Linked DNA regions of Homo sapiens. The protein of the gene in region 3 interacts with the protein of the main gene of each other region in a biochemical or structural test. Each region holds a gene or a part of one and is shown on either strand. Other genes may lie near its edges. The genes, in order: CUL3, TCHP and KCTD17.

Region 1 (3,748 bases), on a different chromosome or scaffold from region 3:
ATGAGGGCTAGAAGTTGCATTGGGAATTAGCTATATGAGAATGCAGTTAAAACTACAGGTGTGGATTAAATTGCTCAGTGTTAGCATGGAGAGCAAGAAAGAACTATGGGATAGACCCCTCCCTTATTTTAGGAACAGTGAGTGTAACAACAGAAACTCTTTAGAGCACTGGTTTTCACAGTGTGGTTCTTGGAACAGCTACCTTAGCATCACCTGGGAACTCATGAGAAACACAGATCCTTAGGTTCCACCAGAGCCTGAGAATTGAATCAGAAACTCTGAGGATAGGGCCCAAGAGTCTGGTTTTTTAACACGAGCTGTAGGTGATTCTGATGTTTTTTCAAATTTGAGAACACTGCTTTAGAAGGAAAAGAAAACAAAATGACAGTGTCCTATGACAAGGGAAGAGAATTACAAGGAGTGAGTGGTCAGTAATATAAAAAATCATGGAAAAACCAAGTTGAATAAACACTTTGGCAATTACGTGACAGGTTAACTTTCTCAGACATTTTCATTGGACTCGTGAAAGTGGATATCCAGTGGTAGTGCCTTGAGAAGGAAATGGAGGTGGAAACCACCAAGAGTGGCTTATTCTTTGAGGTACTGGCTCAAGGGAAAGGGCAGAGAGAGTAGTATTAGAGGATTCAGTGTAGAGTTGAAGGGTTTGGGCTTTTTCCCCCCCAAAATGGGAGGATACTGAGCATGTTTATATCCTATGAATAAAGAATGGATCCTTAAATTGAAAAAAATGAGATGAAGGGATAAATACCACATTCTAGAAAAGGAAAGGTGAGGATTGTATAGAGAGTATGATGATGGTAGTGTACTGACACAGATGTTACTGAACATGCCTCTTCCTGAGAACCTAGGGCAGGGTGCAGGGGTATGTGCTAAGCAAGATTTGGTGTAAGTATGGATAAATGTACATGTGTAGGGTGGGTATTTAAAGAACTTCAAATTGAAATGGCTTCTTTTCTCTATGTGAAACCCGATATGAGCTTGGTGCAGGACTGGGTTGAGGAGTTTAAGGGGATTGTCAGAAATTTGAAATAATACTTGTCGAAGAATGGTGCTCAGGAACTTGCTGAACTTTTGAATACTATAAATTTGTGTTAGTCTACACCAGAGATTGGCAGATGTTTTTGTAAATGGCCAATTGTAGCATGAAAGCAGCTATAGATAATACATAAATGCGTGTGACTCGCGGTGGCTCACGCCTGTAATCCCAGCACCTTGGGAGGCCAAGGTGGGCGGATCACCTGCGGTCAGGAGTTCAAGACCAGCCTGACAAACACAGCGAAACCCCGTCCTACTGAAAATACAAAAATTAGCTGGTGGTGGGTGCCTGTAATCCCAACTACTCGGGAGGCTGAGGCAGGAGAATTGCTTGAAGCTGGGAGGCGAAGGTTGCAGTGAGCCGAGATCGTGCCATTGTACTCCACCCTGGGCGACAGAGCGAGACTCCATCTCAAAAAAAAAAACTAATAAAAAATAAATAAATACATGTGACTGTGTTTCAGTAAAATTTTACAGAAACAGGTAGTGGGGTGTATTTGGCCTGTGACTGCAGTTTGCTGACTCCTGGTGTACACATACGGTGTTAACAACTACATCTTTACTCAGCAAAGACCTCTGTGGTAGGTTGATAATGATGTAGTACATATAGAATATAGGTTTAATCAAATAGTGTTTATGGGATAGGACCAAAAGAATCAGGAGTAGAAGGTCCTGTTGAGAGTGCAGCTTTCAAGAGAAGTGATCTTGAATGCAGTTTAGGCTCGGTTAAACAGGGGAGGGAGCAAGTCGATAGGAGCTGTTAATAGGCTGGAAGAAAAGAAGGGCAAAGGGTGGGAGATCTCAGGTGATGGGTTGAGAGCAAGTTTGTCGATACAGGAGTGGTAATCCTGGAAGGGCGATAAATTGTAGTTGCAGAATGAAGTGCTGAATTTTCAGATTCCAAAGAATTATCAATCCATTGTGGCTTTGGGAAATGAACTGATCAACAAGAGTAAAAGCAAAGCTGGCTCATGGATGCATTAGAGCAAAGAACATGGACTTTGAGGTCAGAAAGGTTTAGATTCATCTCTGTTGGCTCTGTTATTTACTACTTGTTGATGTCAGTTTTCTTCTCCGGCTTTATTTTCCTCGTTTGTAAAATGAGACAACTTATTTTGCAGGGTTAAGAACATTAAATAGGCCGGGCACGGTGGCTCACGCCTGTAATCCCAGCACTTTGGGAGGCCGAGGCAGGCAGATCACAAGGTCAGGAGATCGAGACCATCCTGGCTAACATGATGAAACCCCGTCTCTACTAAAAGTACAAAAAATTAGCCGGGTGTGGTGGTGGGCGCCTGTAGTCCCAGCTACTCAGGAGGCTGAGGCAGGAGAATGGTGGGAACCTGGGAGGCGGAGCTTGCAGTGAGCGGAGATTGCGCCGCTGCACTCCAGCCTGGGCAACAGAGCAAGACTCGATCTCAAAAAAGAAAAAATAAATTAAATAAACTCATACATGCAAAATGACAGATGAATAGTGCATAGACAGACTATGACTGCTGCTTTAGTTATTATTTTATTATTATATATAGCACAGTACTTAGAATCCTGATAGTACTTGGAAAAAACCAACAGAAGCACTTACTATGATTGGGCAGCATTATTCTTTATTCTAAGGCGTTACATCTGTTAACACATTTAGTGTACACACCAGTGGGCCAAGGTCCCAGAGCTAGTAGTGGTAGAGCTGAGTTTATCCAGGTACTCTGAGTCCGGAGTTTGTGTTCTTTAATACATAGGCTACCCAAGTTCTGTGAGTTTTGAGTATAACTCAGAATTCAGTAGATAACAGCATCAAAACGGTTAAACTATAGGTGGCATATGCTCACACTACTGTAATTCCAACTAATTCAATTATTCAACTGCTATCCACTTTAGCATTCACATTCTGATTTGAGGAAGTGTGTTGTAACCATAATATTACATTTTCAAACAGAACCTTTTTAAAGTTTCTGTGCTTTTATCTTTGGTAATCCAGTTAGTAAAGTTCAGTCTCTGAGTGTTAAAATGACATATCAGTTCTGTTCAAAGATACGAATTTTTATGTGTTTATATAAAAATACTATCTACTTTCTTTTTTAGGTAACTCAGCAGTTGAAGGCGCGATTCTTACCAAGTCCAGTTGTTATTAAGAAACGTATTGAAGGACTTATTGAGAGAGAATATTTGGCACGAACACCTGAGGATCGCAAAGTATACACATATGTAGCATAAAATGCGTTCAGAAATTTGATTTATTCTTGGACTGTACTCTTCGCATGGACTGGGAAGTTCTTTTAAATCATTAAATATTAAGACGACCATCTCTTCTATTAAATTACAGTACATGTTCTAGACCATTGAGATCAAGCCTTTACTCCCTTTGAGAGTTTCCAACATCAGTTGATTGAGCTTCAGGCTTTACAACGTTTATCCCTGTAGAGATCATCTTTACAGTTCCTCGGGAAAATGTGAATGTGCTGCGTTTTGTTTTCTTTACTGTATGAAAACAGGAAAATAAAAGAGAAATTTAGAAAATACAGCTCATTACAATAAAATTGTTGGATTTCATTTCCCCAGGTCTTCAGTGTTGATGTAAATGTGTTTTGTAGTGTTGCTTAGCACTTTGCGCATTGTGTAAGTTGGGTAACAAAAATGGCAAAAGAAATGCAGATTTCCCAGTTATCTTGCTCTGAAGACATTTCTTTAGCTAGTC
Region 2 (3,748 bases), on a different chromosome or scaffold from region 3:
AGAGACCATGTTTTGAGACAGGGTCTCACTCTGTCACTCAGGCTGGAGTGCAATGGTGTGATCACGGCTCACTGCAGCCTCCTTGTCCTGAGCTCAAGTGATCCTCCCACCTCAGCCTCCCAAGTTGCTAGGACTATAGGTGTGCACCACCACAGCCTGCTAATTTTATTTATTTATTTATGTATTCATTTATTTATTTAATTTGGAGGTGGAGTCTCACTTTGTCACCCAGGCTGGAGTGCAGCAGCGCAATCTTGGCTCACTGCAACCTCTGCCTCCCAGGTTCAAGCGATTCTCCTGCCTCAGCCTCCCGAGTAGCTGGGAGTATAAGCATCTGCCATCATGCCCGGCTAATTTTTGTATTTTTAGCAGAGACGGGGTTTCATCATGTTGGCCAGGCTGGTCTTCAACTCCTGACCTCAGGTAATCCACCCTCCTGGGCCTCCCAAAGTGCTGGGATTACAGGCGTAAGCCACTGAACCCAGCTGAGGCCATGATGCTGCATCCAGGAAAAACAGAGATGAATAAAGAATGGAGAAATGAAGGGAAGAAGAAATGAAAGAATGGGAAAATGAAAGAAAAGAGAACAAACAAGTATTTTTCTTCATTTTCTTTTTAATGGAATAGTTGGCATGTAATACTTGTAGCACACGAGTTATAAAACATACTAATAGAATGAACACTTTTGAACTCACCACCAATATAAGACTATAATAGAAAGTTATCGGCCGGGTGCAGTGGCTCACTCCTGTAATCCTAGCACTTTGGGAGCCTGAGGCAGGCGCATCACGAGGTCAGGAGATCGAGACCATCCTGACCAATATGGTGAAACCCCATCTCTACTAAAATACAAAAAATTAGCTGGGCGTGGTGGCGTGCGCCTGTAGTCTCAGCTACTCGGTAGGCTGAGGCAGGGTAATCGCTTGAACCCGTAAGGCGGAGGTTGCAGTGAATCGAGATCACGCCACTGCACTCCAGCCTGGCGACAGAGCAAGACTCTGTCTCAAAAAAATAAAAAAGTTACCAATAACTTCCATCTACTTATGCCAGCAGGCCTCTGCCCAAGTTGTACATTGAACACACCTGGGGAATTTTGGAAAACACTGATACTCTCAGATGGGATTTGGGGTTTGGTTTGGGCATCTGGATTTTTTAAAGGTATCTGGATTTTTTCTTCTTTTTTTTGAGACAGTGTCTGGCTCTGTCACCCAGGCTGGAGTGCAGTGGCACAGTCATGGCTCACGGCAGCCTCGATCTCCTGGGCTCAACTGATCCTCCCGCCTCAGTCTCCCGAGTAGCTGGGACCACAAGTCCCACCATGCCCGGTTAAGTTTAAAAAATTTTTTAGAGACAGGAGTCCCTCTGTGTTGCCCAGGCTGGTATCTGGTGATTCTCACGCGCAGCCAGGTTTGAGGACCACTGACTTACATTCTCTTCCCCCTGGTTTCCACCTTCACCTTCACGTGATGGTAACCACCATCCTGAAATACGTGTAGTGCATGGACGGATTCTTTGCCTCCATGCTTCCCTATTTCAAGGAGCAGCGACGTTTGCTATTTATCTCCCGCTGGCCACGACGGGGCACCAGAGAAAAACACAGGCTCCCTACGCGCTGAAGGAGGCTTGGCCCTTGCGACGCTCCGTCGTCGGGCTCGTTGCCGGTGCAAACAGGGAGGAAACAGCCGGCGTTGCTGTAGCGCGTCTGGGAATTACACCGGGGGACTGGCCGGCCCGCTTCGTGCCTGCGGGAAGTCGGGCCGGGGGACTCTTCGGAAACTCCGAGCCTCAGAGAAATGTGAGTCGGAGGGTTGGACTAGGCCGGATCCGGCGTTAGGGCGGGGGCCCGCAGGCGGCCCGCGCGGGCGGGAACCGGGGCGGCAGTCAGCGGGCGCGAGCTCAGGGCGCCTCCGGGGTCCTCACTGCGCTCCCCACGCGCTGTGACCCCATTTGTTGCACGTGCATGTTCAGGTCGAGAGAGGGATGCGACGTGTTCGGGGAGCAGCCCACCTTGTGGGTGGCCAATCCGGGACGGGAATCTTAAACTTTTAACTCTTGGTGCAAAGACTGATCCACTGGCGGCTTTACGGGAGCGGGAAAAAAGTATGTGAAGCTTGCCACGGTCTCGAGACCGAGGTCACACGTTAGCAGCCTGCCGGCTACATTTGGACCATAGACGCAGAGTGTTTGCCCCCAAAACTGGAGGACCTCCAGAATGAGATTCTTGGCGTGCACCAGGCCTTTTCGCTCATTCAGCCGGCGTTCCTACCCAGGCACTGCATCGACCCTACACTTGAGGACAGCTTTTGGGTCAGGGGAATTGGTGCCTGGAGTGAGACTGCTCTCTGCTTTCAAGGCTCCAGCTGTATCCCTACATTGCTCAGGCAATTCCTCTCTCTAGGTCTCAGCTTCTTCATCTGCAAGATGAAAGGTCTGTCCTCCATGGTAGCCCAACATACTTCCGAGTGTTATTATCAGTCCCCTCCCCGGGGACTGCCAGAGCCAGGGCAGGTTGGTCCCAACAGGCAGCCCCTTGCAGCAGAGAGAGCCTGGGCTCTGGTCTCAGACGGACATGAATTAGGAACCCAGCTTGTTTATCTCCTTTACTTCCTGGCTCTGTGATCCTGAGCAAATCACTTTGTAATGCTTAACGTTGTTTTTACTAACCTTGTTTTTTAATGCCTTACCTTGTTTTTACTAACCTTGCTTTTAGACTCTTTTTTTCCCCTTAATCACCTAGCCTTGTTTCCACATGAATTAGCTCTCCCTTAGTTGAGAAAGCCGGATGAACTCCATCTGGTTCCCTCATTTACAAGACATCAAGGACTCCTTACCCACCCCTTTCCTCAAGGAGTTAACTTGTGTAAGCAGAATCTCAACATATCAAAGAGTCCAATTAACTGATAAGGTACTGAAACAAGCAATGTACGAAGTTCCCAGGATTTTGCTCAAAAGATAACACCATAAAACCTTGAGTTGGTGTCGGGCAGAGCACCCATATCTAACATTTTATGAAAGATTTAGAGCCCCTGCACCTGGAACTGTTGTTTCTCTGTAACCATTTGTCTTTTAATTGTTTCTCTGTGACTCTTTGTCCTTTTAATTTTTGCATGTTTTTACTTATGTAGAATTGTTGCATCTGAGCTCCCCTCCCCTTCCTAAACCAAAGTATAAAGGAAAATCAAGCCCCTTCCTCGGGCCAAGAGAATTTATTAGCCGTCTCTTGGGCACTGGCTAAATAAAGGACTCTTAATTTCGTCTCAAACTGTGGCGTTTCTCTAACTCGCTCGGGTACAACAACTTTACCTCTTCAACGTAAGTTTCCTTACCTGCCAAATAGCGAGGTGATTGTAAGAATGAAAAAAAGTCATATGTATTGAGTGCTTGGCACATACATGTGTTCCTTACATTATTGTCTCTGTTTAAGCACAGCATAAATGCCCCCGATGTGCCTAGTCTAGCAATCTTAGGACAATCCCTGTGTCTGTCTGTTGTGTTCCTGGTGATGGCTGGCCCACAGCTGGGTGCACGCAGTCCAGAATTTTTTATGTTTTTGTTTTTTTGAGACAGAGTCTCACTGTCACCCAGGCTGAGTGCAGTGGCGCTATCATGGCTCGCTACAGCCGTGACCTCCTGGGCTCAAGCAATCCTCCTGCCTCAGCCTCCTGAGTAGCTGGGACTACAGGCGCACCACCACTCCTGGCTAATTTTTGATTTTTTATAGAGATGAGTCTCATGATGTGGCTGGTCT
Region 3 (3,748 bases):
CATCTCATTCACCCATTCATGCATTCAACATAGTAAATGCCAGGGACTGTGCTAGGTGTTTTTTTTTGTTTTCTTTCTTTCCTCCCTCCCTTCCTTCCTTCCTTCCTTCCTCCTTCCCTCCCTCTTTCTTTCCCTCCCTCCCTCCTTCCTTTCCTCTCTCTCTCTCTTTCTTTGACGGAGTCTCACTCTGTCACCCAGGTTGGAGTGCAATGGCATGATCTTGGCTCACTGCAACCTCTACCTCCCGGGTTCAAGTGATTCTCCTGCCTTAGCTTCCTGAGTAGCTGGAACTACAGGCGTGAGCCACCATGCCCGGCTAATTTTTGTATTTTTAGTAGAGAAGGGGTTTCACCATGTTGGCCAGGCTGGTCTCGAACTCCTGACCTTGTGATCTGCCTGCCTCGGCCTCCCAAAATGCTAGGATTACAGGCGTGAGCCACCGGCTGTTTTTTGGTTTTCTATCGTTTTATTTTTTTAAAATAGAGATGGGGGCCAGGCGCAGTGGCTCGCACCTGTAATCCCAGCACTTTGGGAGGCCAAAGTAGGAGGATCACTTGAGCTCAGGAGTTCAAAACCAGCCTGGCCAACGTGGTGAAACCCTATCTCTACTAAAAATACAAAAATTAGCCAGGCGTGGTGGTGCATGCCTGTCATCCCAGCTACTCAGGAGGCTGAGGCATGAGAATTGCTTGAACCCAGAAGGCAGAGGTTGCAGTGAGCTGAGATGGTGCCACTGCACTCCAGTCTGGGTGAGAGAGTGAGACTGTATCTCAAAAAAGAAAAAGAGAGAGAGAGAGAGAGAGAGAGAGAGAGAGAGAGAGATAGGGGTCTCACTATGCTGTCCAGGCTGGTCTTGAACTTCTATGCTCAAGCGAGCCTTGGCCTCCCAAAGTGCTGGGATTACAGGTGTGAGCCACCGCACCCAGCCTACGCTAGATGTTTATAGACATTTCATAACTTAATCTTCACAGCAATGCTCTGGGGTCACAACTGTTGTAAATCCCATTTGGCAAGAGAGAAAGCCAATCTCAGAGAGGAAGTTGCTCAGGACACACCTAGTGAATTTTAAGTAGCAGGATTCCAGTACACCTTTGATCCACTCCCTGCCAAGGAGAAAAGCTTTATGCAGAAAGCAGGGCATTGGGTGGTAACAGGGAAACTTCTCCCAGCACAGGGCCAGGCTGCCCAGTGTTCGGGCCAGCTGCGTGTGACATTGGATCAGTGAGAGGAGCCCCAGACCTCTCCCCCATAGGCCAGGACCAGGACTGAAACCAGTAAGGAGAGGAAGCTAAGGAGACAGCTTCCTCGTCAGCCCTTGTCCCTCCCTGGTCCCGGACCACATGAGGAACTGCTCCCTTCCCCCATCCTGAGGTCCACAGAATGACGGTTCCCCTCCGAGTTAACTGGGGAATAACTCAGAAAGCCACCCGCAGAACCAATCCCTCCTCCTTCTTAGGGAGGACGTGGAAAAACTGAGAAAGGCCAAAAGCCAGAATGGAAACTCAGTTCTCCTGACTCGGATCCAGGGCGTGCTCTACTCTTCCTCCTTAGAAGTCTTTCCCAAGGATCCCTGACATTCCATGGTCAGGGAGCAGGAAAGAGACCTTGGTGGGTACTCACTCACCAGCAATGTGAGTAGGGCGGTCACTTCGCTTCTGTGGCTTCATCTGTAAAATGGGTATAGCCCAAAATACCAGACTCACAGGGCTGCTGAGAGCTTAAATTCATAACACATATACACAAAGTGTCTGGCATACAGGTGCTCAGCCAACCTCAAGTCCAGCTATGTCGTTCTCCAAGAACTCAGGTGAGGGAAAGAACCCACTCCCACCCACCCCGCCCCCACCCCTATACACACAAAGGGCAAATGAAAAAATATGACGAAACACATGCGGGTCAATGCTATGGGGATTCCTGGAGGGGAAAGTTTCTTCCCTTATCAGCTGTTGGACGACGGAGACGGCACAAAGGAAAAACAAGAATGCTCGGACCCATGGGATGACTGCAGATTTGGGGAAGCCCTCATTCTTTTCCCAGAGGCCGGGAGTTCGACCTTCCCCATACACAGTGATTTGGCCAGAGGGCATCTTCACCACCCCAGACTGCGGGCCTGCGGGGAAGGGCGAAGCGGGGCGGGACCGGGGGCGGGAGCAGCGCGGGGCGGGACCCTACCCGCGGCCCACGCGGAGCCAGGAGGCGCGGACTACAGCTCCCGGCCTGCCCCGCGTGCGGTCCCCGCCCGCCCCCAGCGCCCGGGAGGAGGATGCAGACGCCGCGGCCGGCGATGAGGATGGAGGCCGGGGAGGCAGCGCCGCCGGCGGGGGCGGGCGGCCGCGCCGCAGGCGGCTGGGGCAAGTGGGTGCGGCTCAACGTGGGGGGCACGGTGTTCCTGACCACCCGGCAGACGCTGTGCCGCGAGCAGAAGTCCTTCCTCAGCCGCCTGTGCCAGGGGGAAGAGCTGCAGTCGGACCGGGTGAGGCCCCCGGGGTGGGCGGCGAGCGGGCGGTGGGTCCTCCGCTCGCCCGACGCGGGGCTGTCGGGCCTGGCTCGCCCGCCAGGCTGGGGACCCGGCCGGGTTCATTTCCGAGGAACTGGAGGCGGGAAGAAGCGGCAGGAGGAGGGGAGGGGGAGGTGGGTCTGGTAGTGAGGGATGTACCCATTGCCGTGGCAACGGGACGACGCAGGCCGCGGCCATTAGAAGCTCTCCAGCCGCCCCGGATCGGGGCCTCTCCTTCTCCTTTGGGGCTGTGGACAGGGAGAGACCTGGGACCTTTCCTCCCTCCCAAAGGGGACTCCTGCTCTGGGGAAGGAGTCGACGAGGCTACTTCTCCCGCTCTTTGGGATGTGGGTGGCGGAGGGGTGCAGGGAGCTAGCTGGATGGAGGAGCCCTGGGGCGCCTTCTGAGCGGGCTGAATCTAGAAGGAGCGTTGGCCCAGCGGGCACTATTTCTGAGCACCCACCCTGACTCTGCTGCACACTGCCTGCCGCGACCTTGAGTCGGACCCTTCCCTGCACTGCGCTCAGCCTCCTTCCTCATCTGTAACACGAAGGGCTGGTCTGAAGATGACCTCTAAGGTCTCCTGTCCCCCATCCGTGACCCTCCGATGCTGTGGCCTTTGGCAAGTCGCCTCACCTCTCAATGTCTCCGATCTCTCTGTAGAGTCGCATGGAAGCCCACCCTGCCTCCCTGCCCGCCCGAGTGTCCAGTGAGATAGTGACTCCTTTGGAAACTTGTAAACATCCCCTGAAAGCCTAGGGACCTGGGGGCGACAGTGGGGCTGGCTTCAGGGGACAGCCTCTCAGAGGGACATTCTTCGAGCCCTGTGCTGGGCCAGTTGCCACTCAGACATCCTCTCACCGGATGCTCACAGCAAACCCTGATTAGGGGGAGAGGAGTGAGTTTCAAAGAGGCCAAATCATTAGCCTAAGGTCACACATTCAGGAAGAGTCAGAAGCAGGGCTTGAACTCAGGTCCATCTGACCCCAGTGCCTTTTTGCTACTTTGTGCCTGCTCCATCCAGGGAAGAGCTCTCCCTCCACTCTCCTTCCCTCCCTGTGCGTGTGCGGGGTTGGCTGGGGAGAAGCCTCACTCTTCTCTCACCGAGCATCCCTCACCTCCATAGGATGAGACCGGGGCCTACCTCATTGACCGTGACCCCACCTACTTCGGGCCCATCCTGAACTTCCTCCGGCATGGCAAGCTGGTGCTGGACAAGGACATGGCTGAGGAGGGTGAGTTGGTCCAGGG

Evidence for each region.
Region 1: the proteins of KCTD17 (region 3) and CUL3 form a complex in vitro, tested with the Homo sapiens proteins (3 studies listed by BioGRID).
Region 2: the proteins of KCTD17 (region 3) and TCHP form a complex in vitro, tested with the Homo sapiens proteins (one study listed by BioGRID).

What each region holds. Positions count from the first base shown.
Region 1 is NC_000002.12:224,473,764-224,477,511, reverse strand, and holds part of CUL3 (cullin-3), read left to right. Parts: intron 1-3,135; coding exon 3,136-3,267; 3' UTR 3,268-3,748. UniProt on the Homo sapiens protein: Core component of multiple cullin-RING-based BCR (BTB-CUL3-RBX1) E3 ubiquitin-protein ligase complexes which mediate the ubiquitination and subsequent proteasomal degradation of target proteins.
Region 2 is NC_000012.12:109,898,632-109,902,379, forward strand, and holds the start of TCHP (trichoplein keratin filament-binding protein), read left to right. Parts: upstream 1-1,642; 5' UTR 1,643-1,795; intron 1,796-1,945; exon of another isoform or gene 1,946-2,428; intron 2,429-3,748. UniProt on the Homo sapiens protein: Tumor suppressor which has the ability to inhibit cell growth and be pro-apoptotic during cell stress. Inhibits cell growth in bladder and prostate cancer cells by a down-regulation of HSPB1 by inhibiting its phosphorylation.
Region 3 is NC_000022.11:37,049,477-37,053,224, forward strand, and holds the start of KCTD17 (BTB/POZ domain-containing protein KCTD17), read left to right. Parts: upstream 1-2,265; 5' UTR 2,266-2,284; coding exon 2,285-2,473; intron 2,474-3,623; coding exon 3,624-3,732; intron 3,733-3,748. UniProt on the Homo sapiens protein: Substrate-adapter for CUL3-RING ubiquitin ligase complexes which mediates the ubiquitination and subsequent proteasomal degradation of TCHP, a protein involved in ciliogenesis down-regulation.